3 separate regions of the Homo sapiens genome follow, and regions 2 and 3 are each linked to region 1. The links come from fine-mapping of genetic effects on gene expression. A gene starts in region 1. Each other region holds a variant in brackets. All regions are shown on one strand. Distances are between the middles of the regions. Region 1 holds the start of PPP1R14A (protein phosphatase 1 regulatory inhibitor subunit 14A). Region 2 holds the start of DPF1 (double PHD fingers 1). Region 3 overlaps CATSPERG (catsper channel auxiliary subunit gamma).

Region 1 (10,543 bases):
TTGTGAGGGGTGGCTTTGATAATGAACTCTGAAGGATGATAAAGGCCAAGGGACAAACATTCCAAGAATCAGGAATGGCACATGCGGAGGCCTTCAGGCAGGAAAGAGAATAGTGTGTTCAGGAGCCAGGGCCACTCCCACTCTTCAGCCTCCCTCCTAGCATAATAATACATGAAAAGCCGTAACTGAGTTATCAAAATGGTATTTACCTTAAACAATGGAAGTCTAACCTTGCAATGAGATCATGGGACTCAAGGTGGAATCTGAATGTGAGGCCAAAGGTCTCCCCCAGCACTTGAATCTCCCACTGCCACTCAGGCCTACTAAACCTAGGCTTGAGCATGAAAACAGAGAAGTATGTGCTGAGCCGTCAAGGCTTGGAAGAAGGTATAGGCCTCTTCTTTCTTTATTTTATTTTATTTTGAGACAGAGTTTCACCTGTTGCCCAGGCTGGAGTGCAATGCTGTGATCTCAGCTCACTGCAACCTCCACCTCCTGGATTCAAGCAATTCTCCTGCCTCAGCCTCCTGAGTAGCTGGGATTACAGGCACCACCCGCCACCACGCCCAGCTAATTTTTGTATTTTTTGTAGAGATGGAGTTTCACCATGTTGGCCAGGCTGGTCTCGAACTTCTGACCTCACGATCCGCCCACCTTGACCTCCCAAAGTGCTGGGATTACAGGCGTGAGCCACTGCATCTGTCCAGTTTTGAACTTTAAACACAAAAACTCAAAAGGAGGGCTGAGCGCAGTGGCTCATGCCTGTAATCCCAGCACTTTGGGAGGCCAAGGCGGGTGGATCACGAGGTCAGCAGATCAAGACCATCTTGGCTAACACGGTGAAAAAATCAAAAAGATTAGCCGGGCGTGGTGGCGGGAGCATGTAGTCCCAGCTACTCGGGAGGCTGAGGCAGGAGAATCTCTTGAACCCGGCAGGCGGGGTTTGCAGTGAGCCAATATTGTGCCACTGTACTCCAGCCTGAGCAACAGCGCGAGAGTCGTTCTCAAAAAAAAAAAAAAAAAAAAGAGGCCGGGCTCACACGCCTGTAATCCCCAGCACTTTGGGAGGCCTGGGCATCTCCATATCTGTCCTGAGAAACATTCCAAGCATCAACATTCCTGATGCTTGGAATGTTTGTCCCTTGGCCTTTATCATCCTTCAGAGTTCATTAAAAAGAGGTGGCTCACGCCTGTAATCCCCAGCACTTTGGGAGGCCGAGGTGGGCGGATCACGAGGTCAGGAATTTGAGACCAGCCTGGCCAACATAGTGAAACCCTGTCTCTACTAGAAATACAAAAATTAGCCGGGCGTGGTGGCGCGCGCCTGTAGTCCCAGCCACTGGAGAGGCTGAGGCAGGAGAATCGCTTGAACCCGGGAGGTGGAGGCTGCGGCGAGCCGAGATCGCCCCACTGCACACCAGCCCGGGCGACAGTGTGAGACTTCGTCTCAAAAAAAAAAAAAAAAAAAAGAAGGGCCGGGTGCGGTGGCTTATGCCTGTAATCTCAGCATTTTAGAAGGCTGAGGTGGGCGGATCACGAGGTCAGCAGATGGAGACCATCTGGGCTAACACGGTGAAACCCCGTCTCTACTGAAAAAAAGTACAAAAGACTAGCCGGGCGTGGTGGTGGGCGCATGTAGTCCCAGCTACTTGGGAGGCTGAGGCAGGAGAATCGCTTGAACCTGGGAGGTGGAGTTTGCAGTGAGCCGACATTGCGCCACTGCACTCCAGCCTGAGCGACGGCGCGAGACTCGTTCTCAAAAAAAAAAAAAAAAAAAAAAAAAAAGAGGCCGGGCGCGGTGGCGGGCGCCTGTAGTCCCAGCTACTCGGGAGGCTGAGGCAGGAGAATAGCTTGAATCCGGGAGGCGGAGGTTGCAGTGAGCTGAGACTGCACCACTGCCCTCCAGCCTGGGTGACAGAGCGAGACTCTGTCTCAAAAAAAAAAAAAAAAAAAAAAAAAAAAACACCAAAAAAAAAACCTTGACAGTAGGCCAGGCGTGGTTGGCTCACACCTGTAATCTCAGCACTTTGGGAGGCCGAGGCGAGCGGATCACCTGAGGTCGGGAGTTCAAGACCATCCTGACCAACATGGAGAAATCCTGTCTGCTAAAAATACAAAATTAGTCGGGCGTGGTGGCGGATGCCTGTAATCCGCGCTACTCAGGAGGCTGAGGCAGGAGAATCGCTTGAACCTGGGAGGTGGAGGTTGCAGTGAGCTGAGATAGTGCCATTGTACTCCAGCCTGGGCAACAAGAGCGAAACTCCGTCTCAAAAAATGAAACAAAAACAAAACAAAAAAAAAACCGACAGTAATTGCATCAATTGTTTTTTTCCCCCTTTTTTATATTGCATCAATTGTTTAGAAAGCAGACCACCAAAAGGTTTTTGTTTCTGTTTCTTCCCTGGGGAGGACTATTTTATCATTGACACTGTTTAGAAATGTCACTGCAAAGTAAAATAAAAATTAGACCAACTTTTGGTCAGTTTTTTTGAAATGGAGTCTCACTCTGTCTGTCGCCTAGGCTGCAGTGCAATGGCACGATCTTGGCTCATCGCAACCTCCACCTCCCGGGTTCAAGCGATTCTCCTGCCTCAGTCTCCCAAGTAGCTGGGATTACAGGCTTGTACCACCACACCCGGCTAATTTTTGTATTTTTATGGAGATGGGGTTTCACCATGTTGGCCAGGCAGGTCTTGAACTCCTGACCTCAGGTGATCTGCCTGCCTTGGCCTCCCAAAGTGCTGGGATTACAGGCATGAGCCACCATGCCCGGCCTTGGTCAGCTTTTTATTTTTAAATTCTCTACAGACAGTGCACCCTCTTTTTGCCTGTACCCAAAGTGGACCAGTCCTGTCCCCCTGCCTTTAGTATGCTACTAGTTGGGAAACAGACAATAATTTTTTTTTTCTGTCACTGCACAGAACAGAAAATATGACATTTTTCTTTTTGAGACAGGGTCTCACTCCATCACCCAGGCTGGAGTGCAGTGGTGCAATCACAGTTCACTGCGTCCTCCATCTCCTGGACTCAAGTGATCCTCCCAACTCAGCCTCCAGAGTAACTGGGACTACAAGCATGTACTATTGCACCTGGCTTTTTTTTTTTTTTTTTTTTTTTGTAGCGACAGGGTCTCACTATGTTGCCCAAGCTGATCTTGAACTCCTGGATGTAATTGCTCCTCCTGCCTCAGCATCCTATAGTGCTGAGATTACAGGTGTGAGCCACCACGCCTGGCATGGACAATACATTAAATGAGTACATTATATATAATGTTAGAGGCCAGGCATGGTGGCTCATGCCTGTAATTCCAGCACTTTGGGAGGTCAAGACGGGCAGATCGTCTGAGGTCAGGAGTTCGAGACCAGCCTGACCAACATGGTGAAACCCCATCTCTACTGAAAATATAAAAAGTAAGCGGACACAGTGGTGTATAACTGTAGTCCCAGCTACTCAGGAGGCTGAAGCAGGAGAATCTCTTGAACCCAGGAGGCAGAGGTTGCAGTGAGCCATGATCACAATACTATACTCCAGCCTGAGGTGACTCCAACTCAAAAAAAAAAAAAAAAAAAAAAAAAAAAAAAAAAAAATATATATATATATATATATATATATAATGTTAGAAAGTGGTAAGTGTTATGTATCAAACAGAGCTGGATGAGGGGCACGAGAGTTGCAGTGTGAAATAGCGTGGCCAGGGAAGACCTCACTGAACAGTGACATTGGAGGGAGGTGAAGGAGTGAGCCCTGATGATATTCTAGGGAAGAACCTTCCTGGCAGAGGGAACTGCGAGTGAAAGGTGCTGGTGCTGAAATGGGACTGTCCCTGGCAGAGATGGGACTGCTAAACCAGAGTTTGGCCTTTAGACTGAAGGTCATGGGTAGCTATGGATAGTTGTTTTTTATTTTTGTTTTTTTAGAGATGGGGTCTTTCTCTGTCGCCCAGGCTGGAGTGTGATGGCACGATCTCAGCTCACTGCAGCCTCCGCCTCCCAGGTTCAAGCAATTCTCCCACCTCAGCCTCCTGAGTAGCTGGGATTACAGGGGTGCACCACCATGCTTGGCTAATTTTTTTTGCATTTTTAGTAGAGACGGGTTCACCATGTTGGTCAGGCTGGTCTCAAACTCCTGACCTCAGATAATCCACTCACCTCAGCCTCCCAAAGTGCTGGGATTACAGACGTGAACCATGGCGCCTGGCCTGTTTTTAATTTTGAAATAAAACAGCTTTATTGAAGCCGGGCACGGTGGCTCACGCCTGTAATCCCAGCACTTTGGGAGGCCTAGGCAGGTGGATTACCTGAGGTCAGGAGTTCAAGACCAGCCTGGCCAACATGGTGAAACCCCGTTTCTACTAAAAATACAAAAATTAGCCAGGCGTGGTGGCACACCCCTGTAATCCCAGCTACTCGGGAGGCTGAGGCAGGAGAATTGCTTGAGCCTGGGAGGCAGAGGTTGCAGTGAGCTGAGATCATGCCAGTGCACTCCAGCCTGGCCAACAGAGCGAGATTCTGCCTCAAAAAAAAAAAAAAAAAAAAAAAAAAACACAGTCTTATTGAGATATAACTCACATACCATACAACTCACCCTTTATTTATTTAGAGATGGAGTTTCACTTTTGTTGCCCAGGATGGAGTGCAATGGCATGATCTCAGCTCACTGCAACATCCCCCTCCCAGGTTCAAGCGATTCTCCTGCCTCAGCCTCCTGAGTAGTTGGGATTATAGGCATGTGCCCCCATGCCCAGCTAATTTTTGTATTTTTAGTGGAGATGGGGTTTCACCATGTTGGCCAGGCTGGTCTCTAACTCTTGACCTCCGATGATCCATCCGCCTTGCCCTCCCAAAGTGCTGGGATTACAGGCGTGAGTCACTGTGCCTGGCCCAACTCACCTTTTTAAAGTGTATAGTTTGGCCAGGTGTGGTGGCTCGTCCCAGCACCTTATGAGTTTCATGACTGCAATTTTTTTCCTCCCATTCCATGGGTTGTCTCTTCACTTTCTTGATGATGTTCTTTGAAACTCAAAAGTTTTACATTATGGCTGGCTGGTGGAGTGAGGTGGCTCATGCCTATAATCCCAGCACCTTGGGAGGCCGAGGTGGGAGGATCGCTTGAGCCCAGGAATTGGAGAACAGCCTAGGCAACATAGGGAGACCCTGTCTCTACAATTTTTTTTTTTTTTTTTGAGATGGAGTCTTGCTCTGTCACCCAGGCTGGAGTGCAGTGGTGCGATCTTGGCTCACCGCAATCTCTGCCTCCTGGGTTCAAGCAATTTTCCTGCCTCAGCCTCCCCAGTAGCTGCAATTACAGGTGCACACCACTACGCCTGGCTTTTTTTTTTTTTTTTTTGTATTTTTAGTAAAGATGGGGTTTCATCATGTTGGCCTGGCTGGTCTTGAATTCCAGACCTCGTGATCTGCCCACCTCGGCCTCTCAAAGTGCTGGGATTACAGGCATGAGCCACCATGCCTGGCCTTTTTAAAAAAATTATTTATTATTATTTTATTTATTTATTTATTTTGAGACAGAGTCTCGCTCTTGTTGCCCAGGCTGGAGTGCAATGGTGCTATCTTGGCTCACTGCAACCTCCACCTCCCGGGTTCAAGCGATTCTCCTGCCTCAGCCTTCCGAGTAGCTGGGATTACAGGCATGTGCCACCAGGCCCAGCTAATTTTTGTATTTTTAGTAGAGATGGAGTTTCACCATGTTGGCCAGGCTGGTCTTGAACTCCTGACCTCGTGATCCACCCTCCTTGGCCTCCCAAAGTTCTGGGATTACAGGAGTGAGCCACTGCGCCCAGCCACATTTAAATTTTAGAGTATAATTATTGCTGCTTATAATTAGAAGTGAGAAGACTGTTTTGAAGTAAGGGACTTCCCTGGCCACCCTCGCTAAAATTGCAACCTTACCCTCACTCCATTTCTCCTTCTCTGCTTTATATTTCTCCAAAGCACTTATATGATAATAAACTGTATAATACCGTACTTACTGTGTTTCTCATGTATCCCGGCTACAACTGTCAACTGCGTGGGACTGGTTTTGTCTGTTTTGTTCCCTGCTCTATCCCTGGAGCGTAAAGCAGTGTCTGGTATAGAGTGGATACTTAATAGATATTCGTTGAACCGGGCCAGTGGCGGTGGCTCACGCCTGTAATCCCAGCACTTTGGGAGGCGGAGGCAGGCAGATCACTTGAGGTCAGGAGTTCGAGGCCAGCCTGGCCAACATGGCGAAATCCCGTCTCTACTAAAAATACAAAAATTAGCCGGGTGTTGTGGTGCATCCCTGTAATCCCAGCTACTTCGGAGGCTGAGGCAGGAGAATCGCTTGAACCTGGGAGGCGGACGTTGCGGTGAGCCGAGATCGCGCCATTGTACTCCAGCCTGGGCGACAAAGAGAGACATCGACTCAAAAAAAAAAAAATTCGTTGAACGGAATGAGTGAACAAACAAATGGATGGATGAGTGAATGAATGAACGAAGGAACAAGTGACCGCTCGACCTTCTACAGCGACAGCGGCGCAGGCGCTCCCGCACCAACAGCCCCCCACCCCGCCACCGCCAGAGGGCGCAGACAGGCCGGGTCCCGAGTGTCTGTCCCAGGCCCCCGCCCCACAGGATCCCGGCCCGGGAGCCCCCGATGCAGGGACCCGCCCGGGACTCTGGGTCCCCGCCCATACCTCAACTTCGCACGACTGCGTGCCTCAAGCCGACGCAGCGGCCTACTCTCGCACTGCAGACGGGGAAACTGAGGCCTGAGGCGGCCGGGGTGGGGCAGACCTCCCGGCGAGCCCGAGCCCCCGCCCCCGGCTAGCCCCGCCCTGGCCCGTAAGAAGCACCCGGGGCGCGAGGCGAAGGCGCACAGCGCGGGGCCAGGCTGGGTCCAGCAGCGCGATGGCAGCTCAGCGGCTGGGCAAGCGCGTGCTGAGCAAGCTGCAGTCTCCATCGCGGGCCCGCGGGCCAGGGGGCAGTCCCGGGGGGCTGCAGAAGCGGCACGCGCGCGTCACCGTCAAGTATGACCGGCGGGAGCTGCAGCGGCGGCTGGACGTGGAGAAGTGGATCGACGGGCGCCTGGAGGAGCTGTACCGCGGCATGGTGAGCCCGGGGAGGGCTCGGGGGTGGTCGGGGACAGATAGAGCCCGGGCGCGGAGACCCCACGCCCTTGGGGTCTCGGTGCACACTCGCTGGTGCACGGCCAGCCTGGTCTGCACAAGAGGACGAGCGCCCCAGGGCCGGGCACTCATTGGCCTGGCCATCCGTGCTCTATGGCATTGTGCTTGTGGACACACCGAGAGCAACACACAAAGACTTGGGTCTCCAGAGATGTGTCCAAACGCCTGTGGAGGGCCAGGGGTTTAGCATGAGGAGGGAGGAGGCTAAGTTGAGCTGAAACCGCCACGTCTGGAGAAAGAGTGGGGGAAGGGGGGTGTCATAAAGCCAAACACAGACATGGTGACAGGGGAGATACAGCCACACAGAGACCCACGGCAAAGGAAGCAAAAGCAGACACAGATGTGCACAGTGAAGGAAGCTATAGCCACTCACGGACACAGCCCAGAAGTAACAGCCATGCACAAACCCACAAGGACACAAGCGGGGGCTGGGGGGGGGTCACCTACAGTTCAACATATGCTACAGTCACAGCCACCCGCAGACACAGCGGCATGGGCCACAGCCGTAGGCAGACACAGCACAACCCCACTGGAACACAAAATGACTCAAGTTACGGCCCTTCCTTATCTCCTAAAGAAAAAACTGACCACCTTCAAGCACAAGCGCTGATCCGCAGCCACTCAAAGACATAAAACAACAGAAATTGGCCCAGCACAGTGGCTCACGCATTTTGTGAGGCCGGGGCAGGAGGATTGCTTGACGTCAGGAGTTCAACACCAGCCTGGGCAACATGGGGAAAACCTGTCTCTACCAAAAATCTTAAAACTTAGCCGGGCGTGGTGGCATGCACGCACTTGTAATCTCAGCTCCTCAGGAGGCTGAGGTGGGAGGATTGCTTGAGCCTGAGAGGCCAAGGTCACAGTGAGCCAAGATTGCACCACTGCACTCCAGCCTGGGCAACAGAGCGAGACCGTGTCTCAAAAACAAACAAAACCCAACAGAATTTATAACTACACCCAGACATAAAACTGTGTAAGCACCGGGCACGGTGGCTCACGCCTGTAATCCCAGCACTTTGGGAGGCCGAGGCGGGCGGATCACCTGAGGTCAGGAGTTTGAGACCAGCCTGATCAACATGGAGAAATCCCGTCTCTACTAAAAAATACAAAATTAGCCGGGTGTGGTGGCACATGCCTGTAATCCCAGCTACTCGGGAGGAGAATCGCTTGAACCCGGGAGGAGGAGGTTGCGGTGAGCCGAGATCCCGCCATTGCCCTCCAGCCTGGGCAACAAGAGCGAAACTCCGTCTCAAAAACAAACAAACAAACAAAAAACTGTAAGCTATAGGAACAGGTGGACATACAACTGCAGAACCCACCGCTGCTCACAGGCACACAAGAGCCTAAGCCACAGCTACATGTATTGACACACACAGGTACTTCATCACTTGAGTTTCTGCTTGAAGTCACACTTTCAGTGACTTCTTTTTTCTTTTCCTTAGAGGTGGGGCCTCATTGGCCGAGCACAGTGGCTCACGCCTGTAATCCCAGAACTTTGGGAGGCCAAGGTGGGCAGATCACTTGAGGTCAGGAGTACGAGACTAGCCTGGCCAACATGGTGAAACCCTGTCTCTACTAAAATTACAAAAATTAGCCGGGCATGGTGGCAGGCAGCTGTAATCCCAGCTACTTGGGAGGCTGAGGCAGGAGAATCACTTGAACCCGGGAGGCGGAGGTTGCAGTGAGCCAAGATCGCGCCATTGTACTCCACCCTAGGTGACAGAAGGAGACTTTGTCTCAAAAAAAAGAAAAAAGAAAAAGAGATGGGGCCTCGCTATGTTGCTCAGGCTGATCTTGAACTCCTAGGCTCAAGCAATTCTCTCTTGTCGGCCTCCCAAAATGTCAGGATTACAGGCGTGAGCCACTGCGCCTGGCCTTCTGTGACTTCTGTATGCTACAGTGTACACAGGACCCACGAGTCCTCCTCTTCATGGTGCGACAATGGTGGAAGGCATGGCCCTTCTCCCATGGTGACATGCAGTCCCTCTGTTCTCAGACTCACACCTGGGCCCATACAGGTGAACCAATCTGGTTGCTAGTGGCAGGTGGCATCTATGAGGCCATTCTCAGGTGGTGGGCCCCACAGCTGACTGTGGACACATGCTGATGTGTCACACACCCAAGCCAGAGCCACACACCTCACACCTGCAGGACCACAGTCCACTATACGAAGCCACTGCACGATGCCAGGTCCCTCTGCATCCTCGGCCAGCCCCAGGCCCTTGGCATCAGGCTGTGGCCCTGGCAGAGACTCACACACCTGTGTCCTTGCTGAAGCCCCTTCACCACACATGAACCAGGACCATCCAGCCCTGAAGCCCCAGGCCTGAAGCCGACAGCCGGACTTTGGGTTGGGGAGGAAAGGATTCATAACCCCAAGGCTCTCTTGCTCCCTCGACAGCTGGGGACAGCTGGGTCCTATTCCCAGCAGGGGTACTGAGCCAGCCTGCGCTTGGGCCACTGCCTGTAGAGGCCACACTCAGCGCCCCGCTCTTAGCAGCTGAGTTGAGCCATGACTCATCCCACCCACCCACCTTGAGGGGCCTCGGTGGTCCTCCCTTCGGTCTCACCAGGCTGCATTTTGGCCCTCTGGGGGCTGGCCCAAGCCGTCCCCTCCCTTCCTGTCCCCTCCCTTCCTGTCCCCTGGGGGAAGGGGCCGCCCCAGCTGGCTGCTGGCTGCCAGCCTCTCCTCCCCTGCACCTAGTGCTAAGACTTTTCCTTGAAAGGGCAGAAGCCAGCTCCTCTCCCGAATCCCAGAATCTGACATTCCAGGACTCCACTAGGCCTGTTTTCCTCTGTGGGAACTAGAGCCAAGGCGAGAGACCCGTGCCAGCCCCGAGGCTCCCGGGGCCCATGGGCCCAGGCATCGGGCTGGTACAGGGCCCCGGGGCTCTCTCAGCCCATCTGTCACCCCTCCCCCCCAACACCCAGATGTCCCGTCTTGGCAGTGCTGTCCCGGACTGCCACATTAATGCTCCAGAACCCGCCAGCTGGGCCCTGGGGCCGGTGGGGCTCCTGCAGAGCCCTGGACAAAGGCGAGGGAGGGAGGGAAGGGGATCCTAAGCACCCCTCCCTCCCTGGCCCTAGGAGGCAGACATGCCCGATGAGATCAACATTGATGAATTGTTGGAGTTAGAGAGTGAAGAGGAGAGAAGCCGGAAAATCCAGGTAGGTGGGGGGACGTGTCCCCCAGCCTCCCACTTTGCACCTCCCTAAAAATAATAGCAATAGTTCACGTGTTTACTGAGTGCTCACTAGATGCCGGGCACTGGTGTGATGGCTTTACATGTATTCACTCACTTAACCCTCACAAAACCCTCCGAAGCAGGCGCTAGTGTGAGCTCCATTTTCCCCATGAGGAAAATGAGGCCCAGAGAG
Region 2 (10,543 bases), 33 kb after region 1:
GAGCGCGGTCCTCCTGACGCCCCCTGGGACGTGTAGTCCGGGCAGGGGCGCCCTCGGGCGCCGCCGCGCGCCCCTAGACTCCACGTCCCGTCGTGCGCTGGGAGGCGCGGGGATTGGCTGAGCCCCGCCCCCGGCCCGCCCCGCTCCGCTCGCGCCGCAGCCCCAAGAATGAATGAAATCGTAGCGCGCTGGGCGGCAGAGCGGGCGGCGCAGGCCGGGCTGGGCCCGCGCGCGGCGGCAGCGGCGCCCCGGGCCGGAGGCGGCCCAGCCGAGCGGGCCATGGCCACCGCCATTCAGAACCCGCTCAAGTCGTGAGTGTCCCTGCCGTCCCCGCCCCCTGTCCAGACCCCCCCACCAGGAGCCCTTCCCCCGCCCGCCCTGGGGCTGAGGAGGGGGACGCAGCGCGCGGACCGTAGTTGAATGGGGGCCCCCAGCGCGAACCCTTGCCCCGGGGGTCCCCACCCCCTGTCGCCCCCTGGGGTTGGGGGCGGGAGCCCCTCCAGGGTCGCGGGGGCGCCTCTTCTTTGTCGCTGTCAGTGAAGGAATGCGGCGCGGGCTGGGGGTGGCGGAGGCCGTTTCCCCACCCAGAGTGGGGGTAGGGGTTTCCCTCTCCTCCATCTCTCCCTCAGGGTCTCCGGAGGTGCCGGGCCTGCCCCGGCCGGGGCTGAAAGCTCGAACACCTAAGTCCGGACCTCGGTCTCCAGGGTTTCCATCACCCGCTCTCCGCTCATCAAAGCGCCTTTCTCTCTTTCCCCTTCTTTCTCTGAGGACCCCGGCCCTCGCGGCCGCAGGGTGGGAGCTGAGACGTCGGGGGTCCCCAGTTCCATCCCCGCTGCCTCCCCTTTTTCCTCCCGGGATCCCGGGAACTGGAAGCCCCGAACCCGCCGTCAGTCTGGACCGCGGCATCCCTCCCTCTCCCCGCGCATACACATCAAACGGGAGCATCTCTGATCCCTTTGGGGACCGGCTGCCCAGGAGGGGGTGCCGGGAGCGCCCTCGGTCTCCGGGGATTCCCTCCCTTTCTCCCTGGCCGCGGTCCTCCGAGCGTTCGCCTCTTCCCGGGCCCGGTGGCTGGGAATCCGGAAGCCTGGGTCCGAGCCTGGCCCCTCCTGACCCTCTCCTCTCCTTGCCATCCCTCGCGCTCTCCACACCTCCCCTTCCCCCTCTCCATCTCGCTCTTGCTTCCTCTTCGGGATCCCGGACTCCACGTCCCAGCGCTCCCCACCCCCCGTTCCCAGGCGGTGACAGCGGGCTCCAAGTGACAGGCACTCGGCCGCTCCCGCCCTCCCTCCCCGCAGGCGAGCGAGGCGCTCCCCTCCCCCTCCTCCCGGGCCTGGTGGAGGAGGCGGAGGGCGAGCGCCCGCGGCGTCGCACAAAGGGGCCGGGGCGACCTCCCCCACCCTTCCCCCAACCCCGTGCGCTGGCTGCCTTGACCTTGAACATCGAGGGCTGGGGGCGGGGGTGGGGGGTGGGGGGAGAGAGGGAGAGAGGGAGCGCCCCCCTACCCCACCCACGAGAAGGGATGCGCCTGCTGGCTGGACCAGAGGCCGCCAGTTGCTTCTGGTTTCTGGCGGGAATGGGGGTGGGAGGTGGAGGGTGGGAGTTGGGAGAGGAAGGGGGGCAGGGACTTAGAGGCAAGCGCCTACACGTGTGGCTTCGCCGTGAGCAGGGTGCCGGGAGCGGGTGTGTGGGGCTCGGGTCCGTGTGAGGTGGTGTATGATGGTGACACCCCTCTGCTGCCCTCTCACCCTAAGTGGCACACACAGACAGCTGTCTCTCCTGTGAGGGGACATCCGCAAAATGGCTGGGAACGGGGCTCTTGTGCAGGTTGGTGGATCTACAGGCGATGGGGCCCCTCACCCTGACCCTGGCCCAGACCCCTGGGAGGAGGTGTGCTACAGCCGTGAGCAGGGGCCCAGCTACAGTAAGCCTGGACTGGGAGGGCCCTACCCCTCTGTGCCCTTCCCTTCCAAAAGGTCTCTGTGGGGGTGAAGGTGGGGACTCCCTGGCTCCTGAAAGAATGTGAGTCAAATCCCCTGGGGAGAAGGAGCTGCAGGGTGCCGCCCTCGGAAGTTCCGACTGCCTGAGTTCCAAAACCAGCTTGAGCCACGAATGTTCCCTGCCGTGAGCCTCAGTTTTGCCATCTGTGTATGGGGGCTTCTAACAGCCCTTACCACCCGATGGGACTGTCGTGGGGCTAAGGCCATCTTTGTAAAGCAGTTAGCACAGAGACTGACACTGACCAAATGTAGTGATTATTATTAGTAGTATCAATATTGATTTATGAAATTGATTTCTACTGTGGGCCAGCTCCCACACAGGGCATTGGGGGATGGGGCAGGAGGATTGTTTGGGCCAGGGAGAGGACTGGGAGTTCAAGTGTGTAGGAGAGTATGTGGGAGTGGTGTGTGCAGGTGGTTAGGGCAGAAGGAAAGAAAGGAGAGCCCGCTGCAAGTGTCAGCCTGCGTCTGTGGGTAGATATCCTGCTGGTGGGCCGGGCATGGTGGCTTATGCCTGTAATCTCAGCACTTTGGGAGGGCAGGGTGGGCAGATCACTTGAGCTTAGGAGTTTGAGACTAGCCTGGCCAACACAGGGACACCCTGTTTTTACAAAAATACAAAAATTAGCCGGGTGCGGTGGCACAGGCCTGTAGTCCCAGCTACTTGGGGGTTTGAGGTGGGAGGATCGCTTGAGCCTGGGAGGTGGAGGCTGCAGCGAGCTGTGTTCATGCCATGGCACTCCAGCCTGGGCCATCGAGTGAGACGCTGTCCAAAAAAAAAAAAGAGAAAAAGAGAAAGAGGAAAGAAAGAGAAGAAAAGAAAGAAAGAAAGAAAGGAAGGAAGGAAGGAAGGAAGGAAGGAAGGAAGGAAGGAAGAGAAATAAAAGAAGAAAAGAAAAGAAAGAAAAATAGAAATTCTGCTGGTAGAGGAGGACTGTTAGGAAGGTCTGCACTCAGTGTCTACACTCGGGCTTCTCTTAATCAAATCGACATGAGAGTTTGGGGTGGGGCAGGAGTGAGTCTGCGTGTCTGAGGCTAGCGGTGTGGGAATCAAGTGTAAGAGGGTGTGTTACGGGACCTGTGAGCTAATGGGAGGTGAGAGAGGAAGGTGGGGTCACAGCTCACCGTGGGTAAGGTGTGAGGTGGCCACTATAGGGCCCTGGAGGCCAGAGTGATCGTAGGGGTGTCAGTGCCCCTCACTTAATCCCCTTGTCACCACTCCAGGCCATATGTGAATCAGAGACCTACCTCCTGTTCCAGGAGAGGGGCCGGCCAAGACCTTACCTGGCTTAGATGGGCGAGTTTGTGGAAAGGGTCTAAGACTAGAGGAGTGTGTGTGTGTGTGTGTGTGTGTGTGTGTGTGTGTAGAAGTGACCGTGAGTGTAGGAGGCCTTGACTGGATCTCTCTCTTGGGGGGATTTCAAGTGACAAAAATGGTGAAGGCTAGCGGGCCACTTCTGTCGGCTGGGGCGCCCCCTGGTGGATGAGGGCGTTTGTGGGCGTGTTAATTACAGCAGCCGCCCAAATTTGAATGCTGGCTCTACAGGGGTCCGGGTGGAAGAGGGGAAGGGGAAAGGGGGAGAAGGGGTGGGAAGGGGAAAGGGGGAGGAGGGGTGAGACGGGAGGGGGGACGGGGTGGTGGTGTTGCAGAGAGACTGGGTCAGTTTGTGACTCAGTGGGTCTGCTCACTCCCTGGGGATCTCTTCGGGTGGAGTCAGTGTGGGTGACAGTGGGAGAGAGAAGGAGGTCAGGACTACTTGGGGAGGGCCGTCAGGGGTGCCTGCCTCCTTCCTTCAGTCTTACCTTCAAAGAGCCGCCAGGGCATGCGGGCATGTGAGGTTACCTTCCTGTGCCTCAGATTCCTCACCTGGAAAATGCAGATAATAAAAGCATCCCGGGGTGAACTGTGCCCAGCACATGATGGGTGCATTTACTCATTCAACAAATATCTACTGAGCATCTATTTTTTTTTTTTTTTTTGGAGACAGGGTCTTGCTCAGTTGTCCAGGCTGGAGTGTAGTGGTGTGATCATAGCTCACTGCAGCTTCGATCTCCTGGGTTCAACCAATCCTCCTGACTCAGCCTCCTGAGTAGCTGGGACCATAGGCATGTGCCACCATGCCCAGCTATTTATTTTTTTTTTAGTAGAGACCAGGTCTCGCTATGTTGCCCAGGCTGTTCTCCTGAGCTCAAGCGGTCCTCTCATCTCAGCCTCCCAGATTGCTGGGATTACAGGCATGAGTCACGGCGCCCTGCTTACTTAGTTTTTTGTTTGTTTGTTTGTTTGTTTGTTTGCTTTTAGAGACAGAGTCTCGCTCTGCCACCCAGGCTGGAGTGCAGTGGTGAGACCACAGCTCACTGCAGCCTCAGCCTCCCAGGTTCAAGCTATCCTCCCACTTTAGCCTTGCAAGTAGCTGGGACTACACTGCTGCGCCATCATGCCCAGCTAATTTTAATTTTTTTTTGTAGACACAGGGGTCTGGATATGTTGCCCAGGTTGGTCTCAAACTCCTGGGCTCAAGCAGTGCTCTCATCTAGGCCTCCCGAAGTACTGGGATTGCAGACTGGAGCCATCGCACCTGGCCGCATTATTCTTTCTTTCTTATTATTTATTTATTTATTTTTGAGAGGGAGTCTCACTCTTGTTGCCCAGGCTGGAGTGCAATGGCACGATCTCAGCTCACTGCAACCTCCACCTCCTGAGTTCAAGTGATTCTCCTGCCTCAGCCTCCTGAGTGGGGGAGTATAAGCATGCGCCACCATGCCCGGCTAATTTTGTATTTTTAGTAGAGACTACTACCATGTTGGCCAGGCTGGTCTCGAACTCCCATCCTCAGGTGATCCACCTGCCTGGGCCTCCCAAAGTGCCGGGATTACAGGTGTGAGCCACTGCGCCTGGCCTGCCAGTCACCTCTTAAAATGCTTTACCTATATTTACTCATTTAATCCTCACAACACTCCAGTGAGGCATCATCCTCTTTTTACAGATGAGGAAACTGAGGCCCAGAAAGGTTAAGTCATTTGCCAAGGTCACATGGCCACCAAGTGGCAGAGCTAGGATTTGAACCCTGGAGGTGTGACTACTGTTTCTAACCTGCACTGCTGCTGTCAGGCCTGCAGAAGGCGTTGAGCAGGGCGGGGTGACCGTGAGCGTGGCTGCTGGGAGAGACAGCCCCGGGTGGGGTCTCTGGAGCCAGGAGGGACTTGGGTGGGGGGCGGTGAGGGGGTGTCTGCTGGAAGCATGTTGGTGAGAAGTCTGTGTGGGCACCTGGGAGGTGTCTCTGCGTCTCTTAGTATTGCAGTGTGTGTGCGTGTGGCTGTGTGAGTCCGTGCGAAGGTGTGTGAGTAGGAGTGTGTGGGAGGCTGTGAGTATCCGCGTGAATGTGTGTGTAAACTGCCATGCGTGGGCGTGTGCGAGTCCAGGTGTGCATGTGGTTGTGTGCACGCGAGAGCAGGATATGTGGACGAGTGAGGGCGGGTGAGTGACGGTGCGTGCCCCGGGCCCCTCCTCCGCGCCGTCCCGTCCCCGCGGGGTCCCGGGGGCCCCCTGGCCTGGGACTACCACTCCCAGCATGGCCCGGGCGGGCCCGCCCCGTCGCCGCGATTGGCCGTGGCCCTCGTGCTCCCGCCCCCCGGGAATGAATGGATGGGCGGCCTCAGCGCCCGCCCGACCGCTGGGAGGACCGACCCGGCGGGGACCTGCTGGGGGCAGGACCCGGGGAGCAAGATGGCCACTGTCATCCCTGGCCCCCTGAGGTGGTGCGGGCCGGCGGGAGGCGGAGAGGAAGCGCGGGCGGGTCTACGCGGGCCTGTGTGTGTGTGGCGACCGGGGGTGGGGCCGAAGGGGTGTCTGGGGGGCTGTCACCGAGTGCGGGGCTGCGCGGGGGTGCGAGAGTGTGTGACTGTGGGTCTCTGACAAGAATGGTGTCGGATGCACCGCTCCCTGGCGGGGTGGAGGGCGTGGGGGGCCTCCAGATTCTTTTTGGGGAAGGGAGACATCATCCCTTCCCTGCAACCCTCGGGTCTGGGAGAGACTGAAATGACCCGGGGGTGCGGGGGCCTTGGCAACTGGAGTGAAGTCCACACTACCTTTGTCTTGGGATGTGGAGTGTGTGTGTGTATCACTTATTTGTGTTCTGGTTTTTTTAAGAATTTTTGGGGGATAGGTGTGTGGACATGTGTCTGTTTCCTTTTATTCTGCACTAGATATCTTTGGATATTTGGGTCTCCCAGTGTGTGTCCGTGTCCTTTGGAACTATATGTCATTTGTCTTGTGTTCTGTGTTTTTGGGTATGTAGGGCTGCGTGTATTTGTGTGTAAATTTTTGTGTGACTATGGGTGGATTTGGCTGTTTCTGTGTTTTATATGTGTGTGTGTCTGTGTGGATGTGTGATATTTTAGATACTGGTTGCGCATCGTGCATCTTTGTAAATGTGTGTGTGTACCTGTGTGAATCTGTGTGATTTCTTTGTGTTGTGTGTCTGGATATTGTGTGTGTGGTTTGTGTTGTGTCTTTGGATACATGGGTAAGTGCCTAGGGG[C/G]GCAAGTGGTTTCTGTAGTTCCTGTCTTTTGACATGCTTGTGTCTTTGGATGCATGAGGGGGTGTATGTGTGTGTGGTGTGATGTTTCCATGTTGTGTGTCTTTGTGTGGGTGATGTGTTTCTGGTGTGTGTCTGTGGATATGTGATGTGTCTTTGTGCATGGTTATTTGTGTGATTTGTCTCCACACTATGGAACTTGGGATATTTGTCTTTTTCAGTAGATATTTATGTGTGCACGTGTGTGAGGTTTGTCTGTTTCTCCTTTGTGAGTATTGGGATTTGTCTCTCTTTGTGTGTGAATCCCGTGTGACTGTGTGTGATTTGTGTTGTGTGTCTGCATGTGTTCAGGTAGGGATACGTCCCGGTGTGTTTTTGTTTGTTTCTGTATCGTGTTTCTACTCATGAGCTGGGGGCCTGTTTGAGTCCCAGTTTGGGGGCCCCTGGGCCCTGTCCCCTTCCCCCAGCCTGGGTCCCGGAGTGGGAGGAGGGGAGAGGTGAGGCTGGAGGGGTCGGCCCACCCCTCCCGAGCCTGGGCGGCCCGGCAGCCGGGGAAGGGGTGCTGGGCGACCCTGTGCGCCTGCCCTTGCTGACAGCCGCCCGCCCGTTCGCCGCCCCTCTAGCCTAGGCGAGGACTTCTACCGCGAGGCCATCGAGCACTGCCGCAGTTACAACGCGCGCCTGTGCGCCGAGCGCAGCCTGCGACTGCCCTTCCTCGACTCGCAGACCGGCGTGGCCCAGAACAACTGCTACATCTGGATGGAGAAGACCCACCGCGGGCCGGGTACCGCCGGGAGGGCTGGCGCAGGGCGGGGCGGGGCCAGGCCGCCCCACCGCCGCCGCCCTCTCACCCCCCTCTCTCTCCAGGTTTGGCCCCGGGACAGATTTACACGTACCCCGCCCGCTGTTGGAGGAAGAAACGGAGACTCAACATCCTGGAGGACCCCAGACTCAGGCCCTGCGAGTACAAGATCGGTGGGTGCAGCCGCTGGGGCCCCCATCGGTGTCCCAGCGCCTGCTGTGTGTCCTAGCACTCGTCCATCACCTTTATCGCCTTCTAGCAAGTGTCTGCCTGGCTGGCTGTGTGTCTGTCTGCCCATGTGCGTCCCGGGTGTTTCCCAGAGATTCCACAGTTTCTCTGAGTCACTGAGTGGCGACTGCATCTCCTCCTACATGGGCCCAGGTGCCCAGTTGTTGTTATTTATTTATTTATTTATTTATTTATTTATTTTTGAGACAGAGTTTCACCCAGGCTGGCGTGCAATGGCGTGATCCCCCAACCTCCACCTAGCGGGGAGTTGAACCTTGAACCCGCAACTTCCGCCTAGCAGGTTCAAGCGATTCTGCCTCAGCCTTCCGAGTAGCTGGGATTACAGGCATGCGCCACCATGCCCGGCTGATTTTGTATTTTTAGTAGAAACGGGGTTTCACCATGTTGGTCAGGCTGGTCTGGAACTCCTGACCTCAGGTGATCTGGCCACCTCGGCCTCCCAAAGTGCTGGGATTACAGGTGTGAGCCACCGCGCCTGGCCTGTTGTTTTTTAAATAGAGGCAGGGTGTTACTATGTTGCCCAGTCTGGTCTTGAACTCCTGAGCTCAAGGGATCCTCCTGTCTCAGCCCTCCAAAGTGCAGGGATTATAGGCGTGAACCACCATGCCCCACCAAGGGTCCCAGTGGTATTGGAGGGCATAGTGATATCTGTTAGGTGTGTGTGGGTGTATGGAGTTGCTGACTGTGTCCCTTCCCCTGGGAACTGGGATGGATCAGTCTGCCTGTATTTTTTTTTTTTTTGAGATGGAGTCTGGCTCTGTCACCCAGGCTGGAGTACAGTGGCGCAATCTCAGCTCACTGCAACCTCCGCCTAGTGGGTTCAAGCGATTCTCCTGTCTCAGCCTCCTGAGTAGCTGGGATTACAGATGCACACTGACATGCCCGGCTAATTTTTTTGTATTTTTAGTAGAGACAGGGTTTCACCATGTTGGCCAGGCTGGTCTCGAACTCCTGACCTCAGGTGATCCACCTGCCTTGGCCTCCCAGAGTGCTGGGATTACAGGCTTGAGTCACCATGCCCGGCCATCTGCCTGTATTTTTTTCTGTGGGTGCCTGAGGGTGTCTGCCTCTGTATCTCCCCAAGGGCGTCTGGATGTCTCAGTGTCTGGTTGGAGCTCTTTCCTCTCTTAGGTGTATCTTCCCAGGTGTCTCCAAGTGTCTTAGAAGGCTTGTGTCTTGTGTATGTCTGGTCTGTCAGGGTGTCCGGCTCCTCCCGAGTGTGTCTGGGTGTGTTAGGCGGTGCGGCCGTCTCTTTCTGTGGGTGTGTGGGTGCCTCGGAGTGTCTGGGAGAATCTTCCTGATGGTGTCTGGCGTATCAGGTGTATTTCTGCACGTGTGTGCCAGTCCATCAGAGGATCTGGACTTACCCTTGAATGTGTTTAGGAATATCGGGATCCTCGGGGTCAGTTTCTCTTCCTGAGTCCGAGGGTCTGTGTGTACCCAGGAGCGTGGCAGTGCCCACCTGGCTGTGTCTCTTCCTGTCTGTCTCCTGTGTGTGTTTGTGTGTATCTAGCTGAGTGATTCTCCCTGAGTATGTCGGTATCTCCCCGCTATGTGTCCAAGCATCTCATCTGGCTGTGTCTTCCCCAGGGTCTAGGTGTATCTGGAGGGCTAATTGTTTCTTTCTTTTTTTCTTTTTTCTTTTTCTTTTTCTTTTTTTTTTTTGAGACGGAGTCTTGCTCTGTCGCCCAGGCTGGAGTGCAGTGGCGCGATCTCACTGCAAGCTCCGCCTCCTGGGTTCACGCCATTCTCCTGCCTCAGCCTCCCGAGTAGCTGGGACTACAGGCGCCTGCCACTACGCCCAGCTAATTTTTTGTATTTTTAGTAGAGACGGGGTTTCACCGTGTTAGCCAGGATGGTCTCGATCTCCTGACCTCATGATCTGCCCGCCTCGGCCTCCCAAAGTGCTGGGATTACAGGCGTGAGCCACCGCACCCGGCCTCTTTCTTTCTTTCTCTTTCTTTCTTTCTTTCTCTTTCTTTCTCTCTCTCTCTTTTTCTTTTCTTTCCTTCCTTCCTTTCTTTCTTTCTTTCCTTCCTTCTTTCTTTCTTTCTCTCTCTTTCTTTTTCTTTTCTTTCCCTCCTTCCTTCCTTCTTCCTTTCTTTTTTTTTTTCACCCAGTTTGGAGTGCAGTGGCACGATCTCGGCTCACTGCAACCTCCGCATCCCGGGTTCAAGTGATTCTCTGCCTCAACCTCCTGAGTAGCTGGGATTACAGGCATGTGCCCCTACACCCGGCTAATTTTTGTATTTTTTTTTTTTTAAGTAGAGATGAGGTTTTACCATGTTGGCCAGGCTGGTCTCAAACTCCTGACCTCAAGTGATCCACCCGCCTCAGCCTCCTAAAGTGTTGGGATTACAGGTGTGAGCCAACGCGCCTGGCCAGCTAATTGTCTCTGAGCATTTCTGAGTGTACCCATGGGTCCAGCTATGTCTCCTCCCTGTGTCTGGGTGTCTCCAAGGATCTGGCTATACCTCTTTGAGTCTCTAGGCTGTATCTGAGAGTGTGGCTTATGCCTGTAATTCCAGCACTTTGGAAGGCCGAGGCAGAGGATCGCTTGAACTCAGGAGTTTGAGACCAGCCTGATTAACACGATGAAACCCCATCTCTACCAAAAATACAAAAATTAGCCCAGTGTGGTAGCATGCCAGCTACTCTGCCTGTAGTCCCAGCTACTCAGGAGGCTGAGGTGGGAGGATCACTTGAGCCTGGGAGTCGCAGTGAGCTGAGATTGCGCCACTGCACTCCAACCTGGGTGACAGAGCGAGACCCTGTCTCAAAAAAAAAAGAAAAAAGACAGCATGGCTGGGCCTCTTCCTTCCCGCATCTGTCTCAGACGATCTGTCTGGATGTCCCCTGCGGGTGTCCCTGTGTCTCCTCTGCGAGTGTCTGGATCTGTCCATATTTGTCTGGGTATGTTTGAGAGTCGCTGTGTCTTCCCTGAGTAGGTCTGG
Region 3 (10,543 bases), 110 kb before region 1:
CAGGTTTTTGTGCTACCAACCATGCCTAGTCAATGCCAACCCCAATGTATTCCTCCAACCCAACACTCTGGGTGAGCACCAACTAGGTGCAATCTCATACCTTTCCTCATTCGCTCCTTCATTCATTCATCTATTAATGCTGACCAAATGCCTACCATGCAACAGGGTATTTTTTTACTCATTTATTTCCTCCTGCCTTCATTCCTCCATCTTGTCAATTCATTGGTCACTACGCATCCATCCAGATTATGGACTGTATAACTAGCCTCAGATGGTGAGGGGAGTTGTCCTGAGGTCAGAGACTGCACTCTGAGGAGGACAGAGAAGAAAAAACTACAGAGAAATGAAGGCTGAATCCTGTGGACCTTGGGACTTTGGATCAAACTGTACCTGAAGCCTGTAAATTACCATTTTCATGTAGACCATTTGAGGGAAATATTTGCTACTTGCAACTAAAATAAGAATCCTGACGTCTCCAGGGTCCCCTCCTTAAGACATTAGATAGGTGTTGACATTCAGAATATTTAACACTGAACAATCAGAACAGATGGTCGGCCATAGCAATGGGCCTGGATTGTGGAGGATCCTGCTGGACCACAGGGAGGTCTGGGGTACACTGGGGAGAGGCTCAGCCAACAGGCACACAGAGAAGCCACTATTTAACAGGTGGCCTAGAAGGTTTTTGATATTTTATTTATTGTTTTGTTTTGTTGAGTCGGAGTCTTGGTCTGTTGCCCAGACTGGAGTGCAGTGGCGCAATCTTGGCTCACGGCAACTTCTGCCTCCCAGGTTCAAGGGATTATCCTGTCTCAGCTTCCCAAGTAGCTGGAATTACAGGTACGCACCACCATGCCCAGCTAATTTTTTGTATTTGTAGTAGAGACAGGGTTACGAGTTTTCACCATGTGGGCCAGGGTGGTCTCAAACTCCTGACCTTAAGTGATCTGCCTCCTTCGATCTCCCGAAGTGCTGGGATTACCGGCATGAACCACCATGCCCAGCCAGGTTTATGATATTTTAATGTGCAGCTATGCTGGTACAAACCTTCTGAACTCGAGCTTTTAAGAGAGCCCACTGCTGGTCCTGAAAAAAGGCTTTATTTGAGTCTGAACGAGAAGTAAACATCAAGCAAAACAGAAAGAGAGGCCTGGGCTGGGTGACAGGTTGCATCTTCAAGATGGGCCTCATAAGAGAGGCGTGACAGTAACTGGGGGCTGGGGCAGGTGGGACACTCAGGTCATCAACTGTCTCTCCACGGCTTCCTTGGGTTCAGCCCTGTCCTCTGTCATCCTGGAGCTGAACATGGAGCCCATCCTGGAATGTCTCAGAGACGGCATGCTCGAGATTCCGGAAATGGAGGCGTAGGTGTAGTAGGATTCTGAGGCAATGAGGTTGTTTATCTTCCACCGGATCATCGTGCAGCCCTTCACCACGAGGGGCCACAGGAGGCAGAAGGCGATGTAGAAGATCACCAGGCCCACAAACACGCTAGCTGACACCTGCAGGGAGCAAAGAATGAGTAAGGAGTTGGCACATGATAAGGTACACAGTCCACAATCTGCATCCACAGTGACAGGGAAATTGACAGATGGAGGCATGACAGCAGGAGGAAATGAATGAGTAGACAGCCTGTGGCATGGCAGGCGTTCAGTCAGCATGGCTAGATGAGTGAATAAAGGAATGAATGAGCGAAGGTATAACAAGCATAGGTATGGAGGCGTGGGCCCCTGCCCACCCAGTAGGGCAGCTCCCGGACAGCCACTCACCATGATGATGAAAAGGGCCCGCTTGGGACTGAGTGGCAGCCCGTGGATGTGCAGCAGGAAGGTGAGCTGGTAGTTGCAGTAGGTGCTCGTGTCCACTCCTCTGCAGGGGTTGGGAGGGGATCCAGGATTAGAGGAGAAGCCAGGCATTCCATGGGCAGCCCCTGACCCGCACCTGGGCCACTTGCCTGGCTCACCTATTGCTCACCAACACCTTGAAGAAGAATTCAGGGGCAAAGATGCCTTGGGGAACATTGTCATAGCATGGGGCATTCTCCAGACAGAGCCACCTGCAAGCCAAAGATCAGGCAGTTGTGCTACCAACCATGCCTAGTCTGTGCCAACTCCCAATTTCTTCCTCCACCCAATGTTTTCGGTGAGGACCAAATGGGTGCAATCTCATGCCTTCCCTCATTCATTCCTTCATTCACTCATTCATTCATGCTGACTGAACGCCTACTGTGCCACAGGTTGTCTACTCATTCATTTCCTCCTGCCTTCACACCTCCATCTGTCAATTCCTCTGTCACTGTGCATCCATCCAGATTACAGGCTGTGTATCTATCATATGCCAAATCCTTATTCATTCTTTGCTGCTTGCATTCCTTTATCCCATAAATATAGCTTGAGCACTTACTAGGTACAAAGTCACATCTTTCATTTATTCCCTTCTTTATTCATTATCCAATAAATGCAGGTTAGGCCAGGCATAGTGGTTCACACCTATAATACCAGCACTTTGGGAGGCCGAGGCAGGTGGATCACTTGAGGTCAGGAGTTCAAGACCAGACTGACCAATATGGTGAAACCCCGTCTCTACAAAAAATACAAAAATTAGCGGGGCATGGTGGCATGCACCTGTAATCCCAGCTACACAGGAGGCTGAGTTGGGAGAATTACTTGAACCCAAGAGGCAGAGGTTGCAGTGAGCTGAGATTGTACTACTGCACTCCAGCCTGGGTGACGGAGCAAGACTCTGTCTCAAAAAAATAAATAAAAATAAAAAATAAAGCAGGTTAAATTCTGACTAGGTGCAAGTTGTTCGTTCATTCACTGCCTTCATTTGCTCATGGCTTCATTTTTTTCCTTTCATTGAATGAAACTTACTGAGCCCCTATATATGAATTTGTTTCTCCATTGTTTTATTCATTCATTAATACCCCCATTCAGATATCAATAAATGCCTGCCACGAATTGATTTATTCATTTGTTCATTCTTTCATTCAATACATGCTATGTTAACCAGCCTGGCCAACATGGTGAAACCCCGTCTCTACTAGAAAAAAAAATACAAAAATTAACCGGGCATGGTGGCATGTGCCTGTAATCCCAGTACTTTGGGAGGCTGAGGCAGGCGGATCACCTGAGGTCAGGAGTTCAAGATCAGCCTGACCAACGTGGTGAAACCCCATCCCTACTAAAAATACAAAAATTAGCCAGGCATGGTGGCGGGTGCCTGTAATCCCAGCTACTTGGGAGGCTGAGGCAGGAGAATTGCTTGAACCCAGGAGGCAGAGGCTGCAGTGAGCTGAGATTGTGCCACTGCACTCCAGCCTGGTGGGCCACAGAGGGAGCCTGTCTCAAAAAATAAACAGGAGGCTGAGACAGGAGAATCGCTTGAACCTGGAAGGTGGAGGTTGCAGTGAGCTGAGATCTTGCCACTGCATTCCAGCCTGGGCAACAAAGAGCAAAACTCCATCTCAAAAATAAAAACAAATTTATGAGTCTATTCAGGACCCAGTTCTGGAGGAGAGACAGACCCCACACCAGACAGTGACTGCCCAGAGCTGTCCACTCTGGGATGGGGACGCACAGGTAGGGGGCTCAGGGCCAGGATGGGAGAGCCCCAAGAGGCCATAGGAGCCATGAAGGGACAATTGTCCCATCTTGAAACAGAAAAGTCCTCCTGGCTGAAGGGGCATCTGCCTAAGGCCTGAAAAGAGTCGGAGGGAGCAGCATTCCAGGCAGAGACTTCAGCTTGTGCAAAGTTCAGCCCCATTTAAGTAACACAAAGGCAGTCAGTGTGACTTGGGGATCAAGAGGCCTCCTAGGGGCAGAAAGGATAGGTGGGCCCAATGGACTACCGACAGATGGGGGCCAAGAGGGGCCAGGCTACGCACTCACTCGATGCCTGGGCTCTCGTGGGACATGATGTGAAAGGCTGAGTCTTTGGTGGTCCTTGTGGTCCTCGTGGTCCAGATAAGGCTGTTGGTCCTGTGCAGGCCCAGGTCATCTCAGCCAGGGGTTGGGGGGCGGTGTAGGGGAGGTATGACCTCAGTGGTCAGTGTGGAGGGAGGCCACAGGTGGGTGCAGGGGACATGGTGTTAGGGGCGGGCAGGAGTTTGCCTGTGAGATCCTAAGAGCCCCACTGTGGGCAGGGCCTGAGACGCAGAGGTGGGGGCTTGCGAGGTGGGCTTGGCTTGGAAGTGGGAAAGGCCTCCAGGGGAAGCAAGGTGGATTACACGTGGGACCCCACGGGGATTACTTGTCCAGGGGGCTGTTGAAGCGGTAGATTTCGTCCTCACTGTAGTCCTTGAGGCTGTCCAGTGTGGGCCCGCCACCCACCACCAGCAGAACATAGCTACCAGGGACAGAAGTGCACACAGACTGGCCTCCGGGTCTCGAGTCCTGCACCCATCTCCTTCCACTCCCTCCACCTGCCCTAGCTGCAAGCTGGCCACGCCTTTACCTGCCCTGGAAACTGCCGGAGTCTCCTGTCACCAAATCTTGAATCAAGAAGAAGGGGTAGAAAACTATGGGGTTGGAGGGGATTGAGACCAGAAGAAGAAATTAGCTTGGCCCGAGAAGCTGAGGACCGAGACGGGGGAAAGTGAGATGCCGCAGGAAAAAGGGTGGGTAGTCTGCGGGGAGAGGAATGGGGAGGGAGAGCACAAAGTAGTGGGGGCAAGAGGGCAGTGAACTGTGCAGGGGAAGGGACTGGACACACACTGTCCCGGAAGAGAAAGCAGGGCATCTCCGGGTTCACGTTAACGCAGTCAAAGTAGTGTTTGTTCTTCAGGCGGCTGTATTCCAGCGTGTAGGTGATGTCGAAGGCCAGGCGCTTGCCTGGGGGGCAGCCAATGAACACTGGCACCATCAGGTTGCCCTCGGTGGGAGGAAAAAAGGCTCACAGGGGTGGCCAGGGTCTCCTCAGGCCCCTGGAGGGGTAAGGGGCAGGAAGGACAGTCCCCCTCCCACAAACACCACCACCAGCTGCCTGGCTCTCCCTCACCCCCAAGGGCAATATGGTCATTAATATCATTAACACGGCCTGGTGCAGTGGCTCATGCCTGTAATCCCAGAACTTCGGGAGGCCGAGGCGGGCTGATCACTTGAGTCCAGGAGTTCGAGACTAGCCTGGCCAGCACAG[T/C]AAAACCCTGTCTCTACTAAAAATACAAAAAATTAGCTGGGTGTGTGGTGGTGCATGCCTGTAATCCCAGCTACTCGGGAGGCAGAGGCTGGAGAATCGCTTGAACCAGGGAGGTAGAGGCCAAGACTGCACCACTGCACTCCAGCCTGGGTGACAGAGCAGGACTCTGTCTCAAAAAAAAAAAAAAAAAGACCGAGAGCCTGCCTGTTCTCTCCCCTAAACCTCCAACTCCTTTGCCCCCACCCTGTTTTGTCCAACCTTGTCTCTTCCAGAGTCTCCCTGCTTCCAGTCCCCTCATTGATGTCCCCCCACCCCATGCAGCCAGATGGGCCCTGGGGACACCCGAGTCCCTCCTCTGCTTAGAGCCCTCCCGAGGAGCCAGCTCACATACCATGGCCCATAAGGGCTCCGCTTACTCTGCCCCATCACTGCTCCGAGCTCATCCCACCACGTTCCCCCTTGCCCACCCTGATGCAATCACACTTCCTCCTTGTTTATTCAGTCTAGCACATGAAATCTCATGTACTCTAAGGAGGTGGGGGCTGTTACAACCCCTTTTGACTGCCCAAGGTCATTCTAAGCCAGGAGGGAGGAACACCAGGATCTGCATGCCAGGGAGTGGGTAGGGAAATGGGTGAGAACAAGAACTCTGGGGCACGCCCCTCCTCTACCACTTATTAGCTCCCTGGGTTACTCTGCACCTCTCTGAGCCTCAGTGTCTGCCCCGGGCAAAGGCGATATCACGTGTATAAGCAAGTGAAGCACCAAGCACCCAAAGAACTGAATGAGGAATGTGTGAGTGGGCAGAAGAAGAGAGAGATGTGAAAGCAGGGCCAGGCCAGCCCTTATGCCACCTTTGTGCCAATTGCAAAAAGTGGCCCTAGGTCGGGCACGGTGGCTCACACCTGTAATCCCAGCACTTTGGGAGGCCAAGGCCGGCAGATCACCTGAGGTTAGGAGTTCAAGACCAGCCTGGCCAACATGGTGAAACTCCGTCTCTATTTAAAATATAAAAAATTAGCTAGGCATGGTGGTATGCAACTGTAATCCCAGCTACTTGGGAGGCTGAGGCAGGAGAATCGCTTGAACCCGGGAGGTGGAGGTTGCAGTGAGCCGAGATTGCACCATTGCACTCCAGCCTGGGGGACAAGAGTGAGACATCGTTAAAAAAAAAACAAAAAACAAAAAAAAAACGGCCCTGTTGCTCACTCTATTCTCCCTCTGAAGAAAAGTTATCAGAGGGAACATACCAGTTTGTGTGCAACCTGCACAACTGGGAAGGTGGCCCTTTCTGAAAACGTGAATGAATGAAAGGAGTTAGGCCGGGCATGGTGGCTCACACCTGGAATCCCAGCACTTTGGGAGGCTGAGGCGGGTGGATCATTTGAGTTTAGGAGTTTGTGACCATCCTGGCCAACATGGAAAAACTCTGTCTCCACTAAAAATACAAAAAATTAGCCAGCCGTGGTGGCGGGCGCCTATAATCCCAGCTACTTGGGAGGCTGAGGCAGGAGAATCACTTGAGCCAAGGAGGCAAAGTGAGCCAAGACCGCGCCGCCGCACTCCAGCCTGGGCAACAAGAGTGAAACTCCGTCTTAAAGAAAAAAGAATGAAAGGAGTTAGTGGGTGGTAGTGGGTGGGTGGATGAATGTTGAGAAAGAATGAGAAGAAAGGAAATTATGAATGCATTAGTGGGATTCTCAGGGGGATTAGCCCTGTTGAGACCCGACCCCAACCTTCCCCTCCCAGGGCCCAGTATCCCAAGCTCCAATACTTGCATATGGGGCCCCAGGTGTGTTTCCTGGAAGCAGAGCCCGGATGAACCCACCACCTGTGGGTAGGAGCAGGTGAAGATGGTGATCCCCGCCGGCCCAGGCTTTCCCACCATCCTGCACCCTCCCCTCCAGGCTTGGACCTCACATTGACCGTCATGGAAGTCTCCATAAGGTGATGTCCACTAATGCCTTGGTCATAGCAAAGCTTTTTATCCTTGAGCGTAATCTGGGGTTGAAGGAGGGGAGAGGCAGAAATGAAGGGGTGAACAGGTCTCCCCAAAGTCCAACAAACAGTTCAAATAACCCATAGCTGGGGCGAGGTGGTGGCTGGTAGGAAAACGGAAGGCTGCCATTTTCTACTCAGGAATAGGCTAACGGGGTGTTGGCCGGGCTGGTCTCCAGCTCCTAACCGCGAGTGATCCGCCAGCCTCGGCCTCCCGAGGTGCCGGGATTGCAGACGGAGTCTGGTTCACTCAGTGCTCAATGGTGTCCAGGCTGGAGTGCAGTGGCGTGATCTCGGCTTGCTACAACCTCCGCCTCCCAGCCGCCTGCCTTGGCCTCCCAAAGTGCCAAGAGTGCAGCCTCTGCCCGGCCGCCACCCCGTCTGGGAAGTGAGGAGTGTCTCTGCCTGGCTGCCCATCGTCTGGGACGTGAGGAGCCCCTCTGCCTGGCTGCCCACTCTGGAAAGTGAGGAGCGTCTCTGCCCGGCCGCCCATCGTCTGAGATGTGGGGAGTGCCTCTGCCCCGCTGCCCCGTCTGGGATGTGAGGAGCGCCTCTGTCCGGTCGCGACCCCATCTGGGAGGTGAGGAGCGTCTCTGCCCAGCCGCCCTGTCTGAGAAGTGAGGAGACCCTCCGCCTGGCAACCGCCCCGTCTGAGAAATGAGGAGCCCCTCCGCCCGGCAGCCACCCTGTCTGGGAAGTGAGGAGCGTCTCCGCCCGGCAGCCACCCCGTCCTGGAGGGAGGTGGGGGTCAGCCCCCGCCAGGCCAGCCGCCCCGTCCGGGAGGGAGGTGGGGGGGTCAGCCCCCCGCCCGGCCAGCTGCCCCGTCCGGGAGGTGAGGGGCACCTCTGCCCGGCCGCCCCTGCTGGGAAGTGGGGAGCCCCTCTGCCCGGCCACCACCCCGTCTGGGAGGTATGCCCAACAGCTCATTGAGAACGGGCCATGATGACAATGGCGGTTTTGTGGAGTGGAAAGCGGGGAAGGGTGGGGAAAAGATTGAGAAATCGGATGGTTGCCGTGTCTGTGTAGAAAGAAGTAGACATGGGAGACTTTTCATTTTGTTTTGTACTGGGAAAAATTCTTCTGCCTTGGGATCCTGTTGATCTGTGACCTTACCCCCAACCCTGTGCTCTCTGAAACATGTGCTGTGTCCACTCAGGGTTAAATGGATTAAGGGCGGTGCAAGATGTGCTTTGTTAAACAGATGCTTGAAGGCAGCATGCTCGTTAAGAGTCATCACCACTCCCTAATCTCAAGTACCCAGGGACACAAACACTGCGGAAGGCCCCAGGGTCCTCTGCCTAGGAAAACCAGAGACCTTTGTTCACTTGTTTATCTGCTGACCTTCCCTCCACTATTGTCCTAGAAACACCCAAGAATGATCAATAAAAAAAAAAAAAAAAAAAAGGAATAGGCTAACGGGGCCAAGCACAGGGTGGTTCATGCCTCACACCTCACACCTCACGCCGAGGCATGAGGATCTCTTGAGTCCAGGAATTCGAGGCCAGCCTGGGCAACATAGGGAGACCCCCGTCTCTACAAAAAATAAAAAGTTAAGGCTGGGTGCAGTGGCTCACGCTTGTAATCCCAGCACTTTGGGAGGCCAAAGTGGGCAGATTATTTGAGGTCAGGAGTTCAAGACTAGCCTGGCCAACATGGTAAAACCCCATCGCTACTAATAATACAAAAAATTAGCTGGGTGTAGTGGCATGCACCTGTAATCTCAGCTACTAGGGAGGCTGAGGCAGGAGACTCGGTTGAATCTGGGAGGCAGAGGTTACAGTGAGCCGAGATCGTGCCATTGCACTCCAGCCTGGGCGACTGAGCAAGACTCCGTCTCAAAAGAAAAACAAAAAGTTCACTGGGCACTGTGGTGCGTGCCTGCAGTCCCAGCTACTCAGGAGGTTGAGGGAGGAGGATCGCTTGAGCCCAGGAGGCCAAGAATGCAGTGATCGCTCCACTGGCACTCCAGCCTGAGCGACAGAGCAAGACCCTGTCTCCAAAAAAAAAAAAAAAAAAAAAAAACAAAACCTCCCTTGATCCCAACTCCCCGGGGGGCCTCACCGAAAATAGCACCGAGTTGCGATTAATCAGGACCTCCTGCTTCACCGAGGCCTCGATGCAGCCGGGGTCGGCCAGCACCACGCCCACGTCCACCTGGCTATGCAGCTGGAAGGCGGTGCCTGCTCCGGGCAGTAAACGGGGTTAAGGCCTCCCTCACAGACAGGCCCCGCCCCTCCGATGGTGTCCCCGCCCCCCAGGCTCCCAGATTCTGGTAGCCCTCGCCCCGCCCTTCGGGCTCCACTCTGGTCCCGCGCAGACCGAGTTCTGACTGCGTCCGGAACGAGTGGCCCTGCGCCGACAGGAAGATGGCGAAGCTGTACTCAGTGCCCTTGTCCAGGAAAATGCGCTCCGGCAGCTCGTACGCGGACTCGAGGTTGTAGATCTTTTCGTAGCTGTCCATTTCTATGGACACGCCGCCCGCGCTTCGCCAATTGCTCGCCAAGAAGAAGTAGTAATCCTGGGGTACCGGATGCGCGGGGCAGAGTCAGCGCCGGGGGTGGGGCACGGTGAGGGGTGTCCGGGCGCCGCCCCTTTCCCGGCTCCCAATCCGCTCCGCCTACCTGGTCTTGTTTGTTGTTCGCCCACCAGCGCCAGGTGGGGTCGTGCACCGGGTCCGCGTACGGCTGCAGGGATCGCCCGGCACCGTGAAGGGATTGGGCAGCGGGGCGAGAGCCTCCAGGCAAGCGGCATCCCCAGACCACCTCCTAGCCTCAAAGCCAGCCCCCAACCCAGAGCAGAAGATACACACCCCAGCCCATCCCCAAACCCTGCTTTCAACCCGGCCACACCCCCAACGCCTTCCCCTGGAAGTCCTGCTCAAGCCAGGCCCCGCCCCCAGGTCCCCCGCCCACCCACCACCAGTCCTGTTCTCCAATCCCGCTGCGCTCCGCTCCACAGGCCTCGCCCTCTAAGCCAGCTCCCGGCTGCCCCAGTCCCGTCTCAGGCCTGCCCGCCCGCCGCCGGACGCCCACCTTGTCGTACACGGAGTGCAGCCACAGCAGGTAGTAGACCAGGCCCTGGTAGATGGCGAGCGAGTTCTCGTTGTGGAAGCCCGAGCGCTCCAGGACGCGCGGCGGCCGCGCCCGGTAGCGCTCCTGGCGCGTGTATCTCTGCGGACTGGGCAGGCTCCGCAGGCGCATCACCGAGAAGGGGCAGAAGTCGATGAAGGAGAGCATCAAGTAGCCCCTGGGCAGTGGCAAGGGGGAAAGGCTGCTGGCTCTAAGGCACCCCGCGCACTGGAAGCTTCCGCAGGCCTCTTTCCCACCCCACCCACTTCCCGTATCGAATCCAGCCCGAATCTTCCTCCTCAGCGTCAGCCCCTGCTGCCCAGAGGCCTCTGCACACATCCCCT

Evidence for each region.
Region 2: its variant is fine-mapped to the expression of PPP1R14A in whole blood (TOPMed, PIP above 0.99).
Region 3: its variant is fine-mapped to the expression of PPP1R14A in whole blood (TOPMed, PIP above 0.99).

The regions. Positions count from the first base shown.
Region 1 is chr19:38,252,684-38,263,226 of GRCh38, reverse strand. PPP1R14A (protein phosphatase 1 regulatory inhibitor subunit 14A) reads left to right here and starts at 6,853. Exons shown (of 4, transcript NM_033256.3): 1 at 6,853-7,088; 2 at 10,253-10,333. The coding sequence starts at 6,888. RefSeq lists enhancers at 1-23, 164-1,100, 1,101-2,038 and a silencer at 6,874-7,061.
Region 2 is chr19:38,219,327-38,229,869 of GRCh38, reverse strand. DPF1 (double PHD fingers 1) reads left to right here and starts at 5,648. Exons shown (of 12, transcript NM_001135155.3): 1 at 5,648-5,756; 2 at 7,162-7,322; 3 at 7,406-7,513. The coding sequence starts at 5,728. RefSeq lists silencers at 1-270, 5,314-5,883 and enhancers at 1,621-2,391, 10,416-10,543. The variant C/G (reference allele first, on the strand shown) is at 6,542.
Region 3 is chr19:38,361,482-38,372,024 of GRCh38, reverse strand. CATSPERG (catsper channel auxiliary subunit gamma) reads right to left here. Exons shown (of 29, transcript NM_021185.5): 17 at 10,164-10,377; 18 at 9,753-9,815; 19 at 9,451-9,649; 20 at 9,193-9,311; 21 at 7,054-7,134; 22 at 6,908-6,964; 23 at 4,713-4,869; 24 at 4,453-4,516; 25 at 4,249-4,344; 26 at 3,888-3,977; 27 at 1,961-2,053; 28 at 1,767-1,866; 29 at 1,082-1,499. The coding sequence ends at 1,233. Among named protein-coding and RNA genes, the nearest start is that of PSMD8, 7.8 kb to the left of the region's middle. RefSeq lists a silencer at 9,287-9,366 and an enhancer at 9,099-10,040. The variant T/C (reference allele first, on the strand shown) is at 5,134.